3 separate regions of the Homo sapiens genome follow, and all the other regions are linked to region 1. Evidence: fine-mapped expression QTL. A gene starts in region 1. Each other region holds a variant in brackets. All regions are shown on one strand. Distances are between the middles of the regions.

Region 1 (5,228 bases):
TCCTATTTATTTTATCCATTTTTTAAAAACTTTAAGAAAGTCCACTGGCTTCACACACACAAAAACCTTCCAAACGAGGCATGATCCTTTTAGAAATAAATTACGGGAGAGGGAGAAGCAGGCGGTATGTGGTTCTGATGCAACAATCTTGATTGATTGATTCTGACAGAGTCTCACTCTGTCGCCCAGGCTGGAGTGCAGTGGCGCGATCTCGGCTCACTACAACCTCTGCCTCCCGGGTTCAAGCGATTCTCCTGCCTCAGCCTCCTGAGTAGCTGGGACTACAGGCGCCCGCCACCACGCCCGGCTAATTTTTATATTTTTATTAGAGACAGTGTTTCACCATGTACACCAGGCTGGTCTCGAACTCCTGACGTCAGGTGATCCGCCCGCCTCGTCCTCCAAAGTGCTGGGATTACAGGCGTGAACCGCCGCGCCCGGCCACAATCTTTAAAAGATTACAACTATGTCTCCTGGGACTGCACGTTCACTACACACCACGCTCACGAGCGCTCGCAGCGGGTATGGAACTCTACAGAGTCCTTTCATCTCCCGTCTCACTGAGGAAGAAGCCCTTTCTTTTCACTGTGACAACCTCCAGGTCCTCCCGCCCATCGTCTGCCTCGACGAGGAAGGAAATGGCACCCCAACGGGGTCGGCCTCCAGGTGAGAGAATCCCAGCTAAGAGTTAAAGGAAGCTGCCGTCCGCCAGGGTACAGAACTCTACCCGCCACCCGCCAACACTCACTTGAACCCAGCCGCCATCTTCCCGCCCGCGCGTCTGCGCCTGCGCCGCTCCTCTCCTGCGCGCCTGTTCCGCCGCCGCACTTTCGACACGGATGCCGGGGCCGCTCACGCCACGGGAAATGCCAAGGTGGGGACGCGACGAAAGGTCCCTGGCCCGCCCTCGCATCGACTTTCCCCTGCCCAGACGCCTTTCTAGGTTTCCTTGCCTTGGACGTATTTTGACGAATCTGCTGTTAAAGAAGGAGCGGGTCTCCCTCTTTATAAAAGAGCTGGTGCTGTGACTCAGAATAACACCAACAGTTCGGAGATAACAGGGTTTCTAGCGCAGAATCAAGCAGTGCGTGTGGAGCGTTATTCCAATGTTTCTGCGTCTTTTTTCTGCCTGTGACTTAGGCTCAGCCCTGGCCTTGCCTCTTCACTGGTCAAGGGCTCCGTGCTCCAACACATGAGAAACCTGAACTTTTTTTTTTTTTTTTTTTGAGACAGAGTCTCGCTCTGTCGTCCAGGCTGGAGTGCAGTGGCGCGATCTCGGCTCACTGCAAGCTCCGCCTCCCGGGTTCACGCCATTCTCCTGCCTCAGCCTCCCGAGTAGCTGGAACTACAGACGCCCGCCACCGCGCCCCGCTAATTTTTTGTATTTTTAGTACAGACGGGGTTTCACCGTGTTAGCCAGGATGGTCTCGATCTCCTGACCTTGTGATCCGCCCGCCTCGTCCTCCCAAAGTGCTGGGATTACAGGCGTGAGCCACGGCGCTCGGCCGAGAAACCTGAACTTTCTGTGCGCTCATTGTCCGCACCACGTTCTGCTCTGCAGGTCCCGGAGCTGAGGGCTCCTAAGCATCACCTTGTGTTGTAGACTGTGTCGTGCTCAAGGCTGCCATCTCCCTCCTAGGTGGGGTTACCAGATAAAATACAGGATACCACGTTAAATTTGAATGTCTGATAAACACAGCGTGGTTTTTTTGTTTTTTGTTTTTGTTTTTTTGTGGGTTTTTTTTTTTTTAAAGCATGAGTATGCCCCAAATAGAGCATGCAATTAGTTGTTGCCAGAACCTGGAGGGAGCTGGGAAGGCTTTACAGATAGATAGTGGTGATGGTTGCACAGTATGTATGTAATTAATGCCACTCACTATTGTAAACTTAAAATGATTAAAATGGCAACTTTTTATTTTACCACAGTTTATAAAAACTAATGTAATAAACCAGAAACCTGTAACTGGATGAGTCGTATGGTATGTGGCTATCTTAATAAGGCTGTTAAAAACATGATTAGTTTTTTAATCTGAAATTCAAATTAAGTAGACGTCTTGCATACTTGATAAACCTGGCGCCCCGCTGTGGAACCTAGCGCTCCTCTCCACCGACTGGGCGCCGAGGGCACGAGAGCGGCGTTTTCTCCGCCTCGCCACGCGGGGGCGCTGCGGCCAGCGGGCGCGACCTCTCTGGCGGCGGGGCCGGGTCGCGCGGGCGCGCTTCCGCCTGTGTGGAGGTGCGGGATTGGGCGGGCTGCCACGGCATGGAGAATGGCTCCGCTTCTGTTGCAGCTGGCGGTGCTCGGCGCGGCGCTGGCGGCCGCAGCCCTCGTACTGGTGAGAACAGGGATGGGAACCCGCGCAGGCCGGGGCTTACCGCTCTCCTGGAGACTGCGGCTCCTCAGGCGTCCCCTCCTCCGCGCTACCAGTTCTCGGAGAAGTCCCTTTTCCCCTAGATTCCCCCAAATTCCTGACCTCGGAGTTTCCTGGAGTTTCACTCTCCTTTTCTTCGGTTCTTTAATTTTCCCTTGGAATCTTATCTCTTTGTGTGCTCAGAGACTTGTAAGTTTTTTCACACTGGAGCGCACCCACCCGGCCTGGCATCATCGCCGCTTCCATCGCCCCTGGCGCCCGCGCCCCCTACCCACCTCCTCTGTCAACCTCGACCTCTCCCAGACTCTCCGGGACCTGCAGCCGCTGCAGTTCTGCTCCACCCAGGGAGGTCTCGAGCCCCCAGAAGGGGTGTGCTCCCTAGCCTGCTCCCTTGGCTGATGTGGTTAAGCAAATAGGGGTGACGGAGCCTTGACGGCAGCCATCTGTTACAAATGGGAATAAATGCGTGGATCGATGAGACCCACTAGGGACGCAGGGTGAGCGAGAGAGACAGGCCTCAGGCGCCTTGTCCGGGGTCGCATTGTGTCCCAGAATTAAGCACCCTAAATATACTGCCCCTAAACAAGGCAGGACGATAGAATGCAAACTCGATTGTCTTTGCCCTTGCTCTCGAAACACAAAAACATTGTAAACACTTGCTGATTGTTAAGTGGTAGAAAATTGGCGAACTCTCTCCCGCACACCTTGGAATGAGCCTGCCCTCTAGTTAGTAAGTGGAGAGGATTTCAGCTTCCTTGACATTCAGATTAGCCACCTAGACAGCACTGCCAGGAAGGCCACTCTGCCATCTTTCCAGAGGTTGTATAAATTTACAGTTTAGATAAAATGTAATGCATCCTTACTTCTTTGTTGATAGTATCTGGGTGAGAGAGGAGTCCTCTCTTGCCCTAACTAGTAGAGATTTCAGGGTTTAGGGCTTTTTTGTTTTTTCAAGTTTTTGAGCAAACCAGGATTGATTGATTGATTGATTGATTTTTGGCGGGGTGCGGGCGGGGAGTGGATTCACACATTCTTAGATTGAAGCTGCCTTACTTTGGGTCTTTTGCACAGATTTTATGGGATTGTACTGACGGTATTTGTTCCCACTAGCTTGAAGTGATAAGAGCTACCATTTATTGATTGTAGTACTTACTATATGTTGTGTTGCACTTGGTTTAATAGGAGTTATTAAATCTTTAACACTGTGACATATATGTTATCATTAGCATTATTTTACTGGTGAGGAAACATGTTGGAGAAATGAGCTCGTGTACTCAAATGTTGCACAACTAGTGAAACTTAGGTTTTTTAAATGCCAGAGCAAGAAATCATTAAAAAAATAATTTTTCAAAACCTCATCCTGTCTTCATATGTATCCACTCTCCATTACTCACAGTCTCACCTCCTTTCTGAATTATTTTAAAACAACTCGAAGACATTTTATCTTTAAATCCTCAGCATTTATTTCTAACAGATAAGGTCCTTCTTTTTAAAATACCACAATAAAGTGGTCACAGATTTAAATTTATTCTGTGATTTCAAATGCCCCCTCAGTTCACTTGCCCTCACTTGTCTCATATATGTCTCAGTATATATGTCTGTTTGTTCCAATCAGGATCCAAACAAGTGCCACACATTGTACTCTGTTGATGTCTTGAGTCTCTTAATCAGTTGACAGTTTCTCCTCCCCCTTTTTTTCTTTTCCTTGTCTTTTTTTTTTTTTTTTTTTTTTGAGACGGAGTCTGGCTCTTGTCACCCAGGCTGGAGTGCAGTGGTGTGATCTTGGCTCACTGCAACCTCTGCCCTCAAGCAATTCTCCTGCCTCAGCCTCCTGAGTAGCTGGGATTACAGGCGCCTACCACCACTCCCGGTTAATTTTTGTACTTTTAATAGAGATGGGGTTTCGCCATGTTGGCCAGGCTGGTCTCGAACTCCTGAACTCAGGTGATCCACCCTCCTCGGCCTCCCAAACTTCTGGGATTACAGACATGAGCCACCGCGCCCGGCCTTTTTCCTTGTCTTTAATATGATCATTTGTCCTGTAGAACTTCTCACAATTTGGATTTCTTTGATTGCATCCCCTTAATGCCTTTTAACATCTTCTATCTCAAATTTTCTATAAACTGGTAGTTAGGATGGAGAGACCTGATCACATACATACTCGATGTGTTTTTTAATCAAGAAAAAATTGTGAGTGATGCTTCTTCCTTTCTCTTGTGTCTCATCAGGAGTCATGTAATGGCCATTTGTCTCTGGTGTTAAGATGGATCTGTGGTTTCAAATGTTGCCAGCCAGACCCACCAGTTTATAAAGTTTGTCATCAGCCTAATGGTTTTAGTAGTCATTGAGGATCATTACCTAAATGCTTTATTTCATTGCGGGTTGCAAAGTGAAATATTCTCATTGTATCCTTCATTTATTACCTAGAGTTTTGTAATGAAAGAAATCTCATCCTCAGCTATTCATTTACCCTAAAATACCTTTCATACATATAAAACGCAAAAGGCAAATTTTTGAAATGAGATCCTTCCTGCATCTTACCCAGTTTTTGTCTTTAGTATCATTGCAAATTTATGATTTACAGTATTTTTCATGGTTTGATCCATTGCAGTAATTTTTTTTGGCAGGGGGGAAGTGGGAGGACGATCAGATTCTTGCATCATAGGCCACTGAGAGCCCATTCAGGTTGACTACTTTGTCCTTTCAGCACAGCCCTTATAATCTTTGATAATCTTTGATTATAATCTTATAATCTCTGAAGTGATAGTAGTTGATGATGGCAGTAAAGATCAGACCTCAAAGATCAAACCTCAGGAGCTGATGACAATGACAATTTGATAATGTCTTCAAATTGAT
Region 2 (5,228 bases), 46 kb after region 1:
TTTAATCCATGTTGAGGTTTGTTTTTGTTTTAGTTTTTTGATATAAGGGTCCAGTTTCGTCCTTCTGCATAGGGATATCCAGTTTTCCCAACACCATCTATTGAAAAGTCATGTCCTTTAGTTCTGAGAAATGTTTCTTAATCTTTTTTTTTTTTTTTTTTTTTTTTTTCACAATCTCTGTTCATTTTCTCTGCTCTCTTACAAACAGATGTGGAACCTCCTTACTAGTCCTGTAATTTTATCTTCTCTCTTCTTTTCTAGTTTTGATCTTTTGAGATTTCCTCAATTTTATTATCCAATCTTCTTTTTGAATTTTTATCTCTGCTATCAAAATTGTAATTTCCTAGAACTCTTTTTTTTTGTTTTTCAGTATTAACTTTTTAAAAAACCTATTCTTGTTGCATGACTACAGTGTCTTCCACTACCTCTGAATATCTTATTTAAAACTTTGTCATTTTCTTTACCTGCATTGTTTCTGTTGCCTCTGATTTTGTGTTTCTTTTTAACACTCATTCTTCACATGTCTATAGTATGGCACTAAAACACTCAGTAGAAGCTGTGTCCATGCGCAGAGCCTCTGATTGGTAAATTTCGCTACAGGTTAAACCAGCAGAGCTACGTGTGAGAAAGTCCCAACTGGCATTGTCTTTTGGACAGGTCATTTTCATGAAAGTAGAGTCCTTCAATCTCCTGCCTAGGAGCTGTGAGCCTGGCTGTTAGCATTCACAGAACCAACAGAGAAAAGGCATGAAGGGAAGGAAAATCTTAGATGTTCAGTGAGTCCTACTTGCAGCCCCACCTGTGTCTTCACCTGAAGACATCAGTTGAGGCCTTCAATGCCTGAGCCTCTGGGGTGCTCTGTGGCACCCTTCTCCCACTGTCCTGTCCATGTTCCCTACAACTTCCAAGGTTTTTTTTATTTTTATTATCATTTCCTCCCATCTTTGTTCTTATATGTTTATTCCATATTGTTGTGTTAATTTTGATAGGGCTGCAGGAGGCAGCAGTGGGGTTCATGTCCATCTGGTGGGTTTAACAGGGTCTCAGCATATTTTTTGTCCTTTAGGAATCTGTTAGTGAGATAACAGCTGTACCAGGAACTGAGTAAGAAAAGAAAACACAGTGGCTCAGCCCAACCCATATTTGCATAAACAAATGAAGGCATCTTAGTTGGAGAATAACCCTTATACTGTTTCCCCCTAATAACATAAGGCTCTGTATAGAAGTACTTGGTATTTTAGTTAAAATGTTTGCTTAGGTAACAGACTGGGCACTTATAATATGATGATATGAGCTGCATTTTTTTGTATGTGTAATAAATGTCTTCTAAAATGTTTAAGAGGAGAAAGACATAATTTAATTTTGGGTCAGACACAGTGGCTCAAGCCTGTAATCTCAGGACTTTGGGAGGTCAAGCCAGGCGGATCATTTAAGCCCAGGAGTTCAAGACCTGGGATACATAATGAAACCTCTTCTCTACAAAAAATACAAAAATTAACCAGGCATGGTGGCACAGAGATGAAAATTCAAAAAGAGGGCTAGATAATAAAATTGAGGAAATCTCAAAAGAACAAAACTAGAAAAGAAGAAGATAAAATTATAGGACTAGTAAGGAATATCTGGGCCTATGCTCCCAGATGTTCAGGAGGCAAAGGTGGGAGGATCACCTGAGTCCAGGGAGGTTGAGGCTGCAGTGAGCCCTGATTGCGCCACTGCATTCCAGCCTGGATGACAGAGTAAGACCCTGTTTAAAACAAACCGAAAAACCCTTTTGGTCTAGGATTTTTTTTTTAATATAAGGTGATTTCAGTTAACCACCCCACTCTTTTTTACTCAATTGTTTTGTGTATTTGATAAGTCACTAGCTATATACTGATATCCTTAGAAATAATATATAATAATCTTTTTCAGGTTATCAAGTATCATTAGAACTAACTCAGCCCACTAGCTAATATTTTGTTTTTGTGTTAAAAGGAAAGTTAAGGGTAAAGCACCAGGCTTAATATTGAAATTATTTCTTTTTTCATAAGTATCACAATTCTAGGGGACGAAAGTTTTAAAATACAACCCACTTTTGTAAGTGGTTTTATCATAATACTTGGAATTTAAACTATTTACCTAATGGATGATTATGGTATTGTGGCAAAAAACCAAAAAATCTCCCAAATTCAAGTTGTCTGGGATTGGAGAAATCAAATATAAGTGGACTTTAGGCATTTTCTTGTCTGTATTAATAATGTTTTACACCAGGCCCTAGAAGTTTGAACTGTGCTCTGTGCAGCCTAGAAAGTGGGGACTGACTCATGGATGAAGGCAAAACAGTCA[A/G]GGACTTTAGACAGTTTCAATGACGATGAAGAAGATTTAACAGGTAGTAGTGCTTTTCTTCCTGAGCTTTAATACCAGTGAGAGAAGCAACTAGTTCAGAGAAATTTTGTAAGCAGAATCCAGGAAAACTTATGAGTCAGGATTCAGAACCTTTAAGGAAAGCAGGTTTGACCTAAGCCAAGGCACTGACTGAAAAGAGGCTTTAAGAAAGACCTTTCGTAAGTGGAAGGAAGGATACACTGGAGATTTAGACTGGAAATGGTTTTAACAGTATATATTAGGACAAGTAAGACAATATATCAGATTCCTATGTATGTATTAATTATACCCAAAGAGTATTTCAGACTAGTCCAAAGTAGCTTTTTACTTTCAATAGTTGCCAGTATTATATTGTGCAGGACACCACAGGGAAGGGGAACAGAAAAGACAAGGAAGGCCCTGGGGACACTATTAGAAAAGTAATCTGGATCCTCTGATGGTAGAAGAAAATAGGCAACCAACTCTAAAGTAATGTAAAACAGTCTCAACTAGAGCATCTCAGAGTTTTGTTTTATCAGCTGTCTGAATCAGTTGAAAATGTCAGTTCTTTACCTTGAGCTAGTCCAGTTAAGGTTAGGATTGAAAACCATCAATCTTGAAATTTTCCAGGATTAAATTTTTTCTTGGAACCCATGAGGCTAGTTTTACCTCTGTGAGTTTCTGAGTTGTAATAGAGATACAATATTATGCAATGATATTCTAAATTATTATTTGACTTGAAACTTCTGAACTACTCAGCTTTGAATTATTTGATTTCTGTGAATCTGATCTTCAGATTTATGGTATAAGCTTTATATCTGCCATGTAAGCTTCTTTAAAACATGCCAAGGTAGAGATGTAGTTGTGTTCTATTTGTCTTTAAAAATAAATATCAATATATTTTCTATTTTAGGGCATTTGATGTAGAACTACTGTACATAGCACAGTTCTTTAAAATTCCAATAGCAGAAATTGCTGTCAACTGGACAGAAATTGAAGGTGAGTATATTGTTTATTGTATGATTGTCTTGAGTCAGATAATACAGTTGTTTAGTAAAGTCAGCTGGCTTTAATGTTCTCCTTGCTCCCCTCATCAAGCCCTTCTCAGCTGTCTTGACTCAAAGATCCAGTTCCAAGGAGAATAGTACCTACTAATACCTTCCATCTGGCTTGCTGCCTTTTATATTTTTTGTCTGTTCATGGGGCCTTCAGTAGGCCTACTACCTTGTCGAAGAAACTTCAATAAAACTTCCTACAATAGACAAAGTCATGGTGATCTGAAATTAGAAGGTTGATAGTCTTTTGAGATAGATAAATTTATTTTTTGCATCACCATTTCCTATATTTTTTTTATCACTAGGTGGATATTAATTAGGTACCTGCAAACCACTATGCAAAGCTAAATAAGAAATAAAAATTTTTTTTATGGCCGAGCACCATGCCTCATGCCTGTAATCCCAGCACTTTCGGAGACCGAGGGGGTGGATCACCTAAGGTCAGGAGTTCAAGACCAGTCTGGCCAACAGGGTGAAACCCCGTCTTTACTAAAAAATACAAAAAGATGGCCGGGCGTGGTGTCAGGCACCTGTAATCCCAGCTAGTCAGGAGTCTGAGGCAGAAGAATTGCTTGAACCCGAGAGGCAAAGGTTGCGGTGAGCCAAGATTGCACCATTGCACTCCCGCCTGGGCAACGAGTGAAACTCCATCTGAAAAAATAAATAACTAAAAGTGTTTTTACTCCAAATGTCCACAGTCAATCCAGAGCCATTTAAAAACTATATCTGTACATATATCCAAAAGTATAAAGATCCCAACTCTATAATAACTTGAAATCTATCATAAATCTTAATAATTCCTATTTTAAAAGGCTTAGACAGCTCTGGCTGTATAGAATTTTAAACATATTCTAGTTTTCTCCTTACCTTAGAATGAACCTAAATTAATTCACAGTGTGGGAGCAGTTAACATAATCAACTGGAGACTTTTTCGAAGTCCAGCTCTTCTGGTGAGAGTCCTTGTTGCAGTAAACCATTATTGCTCTGTAACCTCAGATGTTTAGGGACAGAAAAAGGTTAAGAACCAATCTCGAGATTATACAAACTGTATAGTCTAGGATGAATTCAAACCTCTTTACATCTTGCTGAATCAAACTGAGTTTACAAAATCTTAGCTCATCTCCACAGTAGCTGCCTAGAATCAAAGGGGATTGGGAAGCAGGTCAAAGGATCACTCAGGGGTATCATGATCAACTTTGTTGATTTGTGTTGATCTTTGGCCAACCTAGACTCTATGGGAAGATGAGGTGGGGAAAAGTAAAAGTCCATTTTATGTTTAGTCATTTGCTTATTTGCATTACAGAGATAGTTGTCTTGTAATATGAATTGTAGGTACCTCAACTTCCTCATTTGTGGGATGAAGATAATTTTTGGCCCTGATAAACGATAATGTCTCTACAGTGCTTTGGTGGTAATGTTTTCAGAAGAAAGCTGTCATATAAATTCAGAGCAGTGAAAAAGGTCTTCTTTAAATATAAAGTATAATTAAAATGATAATGAAATGTTAAACCTTCCTCCTGATACTTTATCTGCACGTATATACTATAAGTAATGGTTATAAGAATCTGCTGTGGCTGGGTGCAGTCACTCATGCCTGTAATCCCAGCACTTTGGGAGCCTAAGTTGGGAGGATCACTTGAGCCTAGGAGTTTGAGACCAGCCTGGGCAACACAGTGAGACCTCATCTCTATAAAAAAATTGTAAAATTAGGCAGGTGTGGTGCGTGCCTCCTGTACTCCCAGCTACTGGGGAGGCTGAGGTAGGAGGACTGGATCGTTTGAGCCCGGGAGGTCAAGGTTACAGTGAGCCATAATCGTGTCACTGCACTAC
Region 3 (5,228 bases), 55 kb after region 1:
GCTCACACCTGTAATCCCATCACTTTGAGAGGCCAAGGTGGGTGGATCACCTGAGGTCAGGAGTTCGAAACCAGCCTGGCCAACATGGTGAAACCCCATCTCTACTAAAAATACAAAAATTAGCTGGGCATGGTGGCAGGTGCCTGTAATCCCAGCTACTTGGGAGGCTGAGGCAGGAAAATCACTTGGGGAGGTGGAGGTTGCAGTGAGCCAAGATCACGCCACTGCACTCCAGCCTGGGTGACATGAGTGAGACTCCGTCTCAAAAAAAAAAAATGCAGTATTAAATCATAACTGCATAAAATTAATAATTTCGTAGCCACCTCCTGTTGCTATTGCATGAGCTCAGGTGTTGTAAATATCCACTTATATGCTGTGTGACACTAACCATCTCCATATGAGCAGTTCATCTCTCCAGTAAATTGCATATAACAGTAGAAATTGAGCTCTTGGAGTTCTCATGTGTTTTTCATGTTTAGTGCAATACTGTAAACCTTGAATAACACCATGGGACCGATATGAAGTACCATTAGTAATGCTGGAAATACTCCCAAGAAGCAGAGAAAAGTCATGACATTACAAGAAAAAGTTGAATTGCTTGATATGTACCATAGATGAGGGCTGCAGCTGAGGTTGCTCACCATTTCAAGATAAATGAATCCAAGCCAGGCATGGTAGCTCATGCCTATAATCCCAGCACTTTGGGAGGCCGAGGCAGGCGGATCACCTGAGGTAGTTCAAGACCAGCTTGGCCATCATTGTGAAACCCCATCTCTACTAAAAATACAAGAATTCGCCAGGCGTGGTGGCGGGTGCCTGTAATCCCAGCTACTTGGGAGACTGAGGCACAAGACTCACTTGAACCCGGAAGAGGGAGGTTGCAGCAAACCGAGATTGCACCACTGCACTCCAACCTAGGTGACAGAGCGAGACTGTCTCAAAAAAATAAATAAATAGTGTAAGGACTATTGGGGAAAAAAAAAAGAAAATTTGTGAATCCATTGCCACTACTACATCTGCAGGTACAAAAATCTTGCAATTTTTGCAAAATACCTTTTCTCTCATATTGAAAATGCAGCTTTTAAGTGGGTACAGGATTGCTATAAGAAAGACATACCTATAGACTCTAATATGATTCACAAAAAGGCAAAGTCATCATATGACAAGTTAAAGGAAGGTGAAGGATCTAAAGCTGGGGAATTTAATGCCAGAAATGAATGGTTCATTTTAGAGGTTTGGCTTTTAAAAAAAAAGTCAAGATAAGGGAGAAGCAGCTTCTGCTGATCCAGGAGGTAACACACGAGTTCCCAAACACCATTAAGAAAATCATTGAGGAGAAAGGATATCTGCCTAAACAGGTTTTTAATGCAGACGAAAGTGCCCTAATCTGGGGGGTGGGGGGGTGGAATGCCACAAAGGACATTTATTAGGAAGAGAAGCAAGCACCAGGATTTAAGGCAGGAAGAAACAGGCTAACTGCTGTTTTGTACAAATGCAATCGGGTTTATGATCAGGACTGCCCTTATCTGTAAAGCTGCTAAATCCTGAAAGGAAATGATAAACATCAGCTCCCAGTCTTCTGGTTGTACAAGGAGGCCTGGACAATGATACCCCTTTCTCTGGATTGCCTGCATTGATGTTCTGTCCCTGAAGTCAAAAAGTACCCTGCCAGTGAGAAATTGCCTTTTAAGGTTCTTTTGACATTGGACAATGCCCCTGATCACCCAGAACGTCATGAGTTCAACACGGAAGGCTTAGCAGTTGTCTACTTGCCCCCAAACACAATGTCTCTAATTCAGCCTTTACATCAGGGAGTCATAGGACCTTGAAGGCTCATTACACACAGTTCTCTATAGAAAGGATTGTCAATGCTAGAACAAAAGCCCAACAGGACATGAAAGGCTGGAAGGGGTTGGGGTCTGGTGGCTCACGTCTGTAATCCCAGCACTTTGGGAGGCCGAGGTGGGAGGATCACTTGAGGTCAGGAGTTCAATACCAGCCTGGGCAACATAACAAGATCCCATCTCTACAAAAAAATTAAAAAATTAGCTGGGCATGGTGGTTGGTGCAGCCAGTAGTCCTCACTACTCGGGAGGCTGAGGATGGAGGACTGCCTGAGCCCAGGAGTTTGGGGCTGTGGTGAGCTGTCATCACACCACTGCACTCCAGCCTGGGGAACAGAGCAAGACCCTGTCTCTCAAAAAAAAAAAAAAAAAGTCTGAAAGAATTATACCATTGAAGATGCAAGCCATCGTTATAGAAAAATAAAAGCTGTGAAAGTCACCAAGTATGAAACAATAATTCCTGCAGAAAACTGTGTCCAGATGTTGTGCATGACTTCACAGGATTTATGACAGAGCCAATCAAAGAAATCATGAAAGAGATTGTGGATAGGGCAAAAAAAAAAAGATGGCAGGTGAACAGTTTTGAGATATGGATGTTGGAGAAATTCAACAGGTAATAGAGACAACACCAGTGGAGTTAGCAGAAGATGACTTGATGAAGATGAGTGCTTCTGAACCAGTGCCAGATGATGCAGAAGAAGACATACAAGAAGCAGGACTCCAATTATTGAAGTCTGCTTGTGACTTCTTTTACAACTTGGACCCTTCCACAATATGGGCACTGAAACTAAAGCAAATGGTAGAAGAAGGATTGGTACTGTAGAGAAACATTTTTAGAGAAATGAAAAAAAATCAGACCAGAATTATGATATATTAATATTTCCATGAAGTCACACCAAGGGTGCCTGCCTCTCCTGCCTCCCCTTCCACCTCCTCCACCTCTTCTGCCTCTGTCACCTGGGAGACAGCAAGACCAACCCCTCCTCTTACTCCTCAGCCAACTCAATGTGAAGACAAGAATGAAGGCCTTTATGACGACTCACTTCCACTTAATGAATGTTAAATATATTTTCTCTTACTTATGGTTTTCTTAATAACATTTTCTTTTCTCTAGCATACTTTATTGTAAGAACGCAATATATAATACATATAATTTAGGAAATATGTGTTAATACACTATGTTATC[G/A]GTAAAGTTTCCAGTCAATAGCAGGCTATTAGTAGTTAAGTTTTGAGGGAGTCAAAGTTAATGGATTATCAACTACACAGGGGTTAGCACTCCAAACCCCTGCATCGTTCAGGGGTGCACTGTACTTCTACTCGTAGTTGATTCTCCAGTTCTATGTTCCACCTTCTTTATTCAGTTATTTTATTAGTCCTTTCTCAGATTGCTATAAAGAACTACCTGAGACTGAGTAATTTATTTAAAAAAAAAAAAAGAGGTTTAATTGACTCATAGTTCCACAGGTGTACAGGAAGCATAACTGAGGAGGCCTCAGGAAACTTACAATCATGGCAGAAGGTGAAGGGCCTCAGGAAACTTACAATCATGGCAGAAGGTGAAGGGCCTCAGGAAACTTACAATCATGTCTGGAGAAGGAGGAAAAGAGCAAACGGAGAGGCGCCATACACTTTTAAACATCCATGTCTCTTGAGAATTCACTCACTATCATGAGAACAGCAAGGGGAAAATCTACCACTAAGATCCAATCATCTGCCACCAGGTCCCTCCTCCAACACTAGGGATTACAATTTGACATGAGATTTGGGTGGGGACACAAAACTAAACCATATCAGTTATAATTTCCTTAAGAGCAGAAACTTTGCCTTTATTTTATTTGTTTGTCTCTACAGCATCCTAAATTGTGATTGTTCAATAAAGGAAATGGTTAGATAATGCTACCATTTCAATTCACTCATCGAAAAAATAATTCTATGAACGAGATTATCCATTTTATTGACAATTAAATCCCCTGAAGAAGAAGTCTAGAGGACTGCTTTGTTTTTGTTTTTGTGCAGTCTCAAAAATGCTTTGATTGTGTTTTTGTGCAGTTTTTTGTTTGTTTTTGTGCAGTCTCAAAAGTGCCAAATCCACAAATTGATAAATTTATTTTGTTAATCCAATAATAGACTCTAATAAGTGATATCTTTTTGATTCGCTGATTTTGAAGTAAAACTCCAGTTAGTATTTTGATGGTCACAAAACATAATACTTTACCTAGATTTGATCCTGTCTAAATTCTGATAGTACTGAGAAAGGACAAAGGGGAACAAAAGAGGTCCTTACCTGAGCAGTATCACAATGCACCTCAAAAATACTGCTGGGGCCAGGCGCGGTGGCTCACGCCTATAATCCCAGCATTTTGGGAGGCAGAGGCGGGTAAATCACTTGAGGTCAAGAGTTTGAGACCAGCCTGGTCAACATGGCAAAACCCTGTCTCTACTAAAAATACAAAAATTAGCCGGGCCTGGTGGTGGGCACCTGTAATCTCAGCTACTCGGGATGCTGACGCAGGAAAATCACTTGAACCCGGGGGATGAAGGTTGCAGTGAGCCAAGATCATGCCACTTCACTCCAACCTGGGTGAAAGAGCGAAACTCCATCTCAAAAAAAAAAAAAAAAAAAAAAAGACCAAAAATACTGCTGGGGAAAACAAAGTCATAAGGTCTATATCTCTGACCCATTAATATTACAGTAACAACATGTACCTCTGTGCAGGGTAGATGAATGTCACTGCAGCTTTTTCTATCATCGCAGAAATAGTAAAACCTAGGGCCCCAAAGCTATAGTAATTGCAAAACATGTCCCAACTCTCCAGTGGTGTGAATTTATTTAAATCTTTTGAAATAAAATTGTAAGGAAAATAAAAGTCCTTAACATCGCACTATATACACTATGAAGTGTAAGTCCTTCCATCATCCACTCAATGATTGAATGCCTAGCAGTTCTACTTTAAAAAAATGTCTATTCTCGAGGGATCTACTTAGAAAGAAAGGAATATGTTAAACATTTAAATTGCAATGCAAATAATATGAGATCAAGAAGCCAGATATGTTCTGAGGAAGGATGAATCTTTGCAGTCTAAAATTAGGAAAATTTCCCCTAAATTGTTGCATCTCTATGGGACTCCGCATGCACAATGCACAACTACAATGTAAGTAAAATCACCTCCATCTGGGAAGATAGTTTATATACTGTCAGTTCCTTTTGATCTTTGTCATTCTTTTTCGTTTTTTGCCTTTTTTTTTTTTTTTGAGACGGAGCCTTGCTCTGTCTCCCCTGCTAGAGTGCAGTGGTGTGATCTCAGCTCACTGCAATCTCCTGGGTTCAAGCGGTTCTCCTGCCTCAGCCTCCCAAGTAGCTGGAACTACAGGCACGTGCCACCA

Which allele goes with the higher level. Positions count from the first base shown, and alleles are read on the strand shown. Sizes are in standard deviations (SD) of each study's normalised expression. Not every link is listed here.
In carriers of allele G in region 3, the expression in thyroid of the gene that starts at base 2,231 in region 1 tends to be higher than with A alone (small effect, 0.12 SD a copy in GTEx).

Evidence for each region. PIP is the estimated chance that this variant, and not a neighbour inherited with it, causes the effect. A credible set is the group of variants that fine-mapping cannot tell apart.
Region 2: its variant is the best candidate, but not a certain one, in a credible set for the expression of ALG5 in whole blood (INTERVAL, PIP 0.80).
Region 3: its variant is the best candidate, but not a certain one, in a credible set for the expression of ALG5 in thyroid (GTEx, PIP 0.60).

What each region holds. Positions count from the first base shown.
Region 1 is chr13:36,996,343-37,001,570 of GRCh38, reverse strand. It overlaps ALG5 (ALG5 dolichyl-phosphate beta-glucosyltransferase), which reads left to right and starts at 2,231. Exons shown (of 10, transcript NM_013338.5): 1 at 2,231-2,336. The coding sequence starts at 2,271. EXOSC8 (exosome component 8) reads right to left here and starts at 785. Exons shown (of 11, transcript NM_181503.3): 1 at 749-785. The coding sequence starts at 765. RefSeq lists enhancers at 216-275, 496-755, 956-1,045, 1,506-1,555 and a silencer at 2,016-2,315.
Region 2 is chr13:36,950,628-36,955,855 of GRCh38, reverse strand. It overlaps ALG5 (ALG5 dolichyl-phosphate beta-glucosyltransferase), which reads left to right. Exons shown (of 10, transcript NM_013338.5): 9 at 3,257-3,342. Among named protein-coding and RNA genes, the nearest start is that of SMAD9, 33 kb to the right of the region's middle. The variant A/G (reference allele first, on the strand shown) is at 2,326.
Region 3 is chr13:36,941,688-36,946,915 of GRCh38, reverse strand. No RefSeq gene overlaps it. Among named protein-coding and RNA genes, the nearest start is that of SMAD9, 24 kb to the right of the region's middle. The variant G/A (reference allele first, on the strand shown) is at 3,031.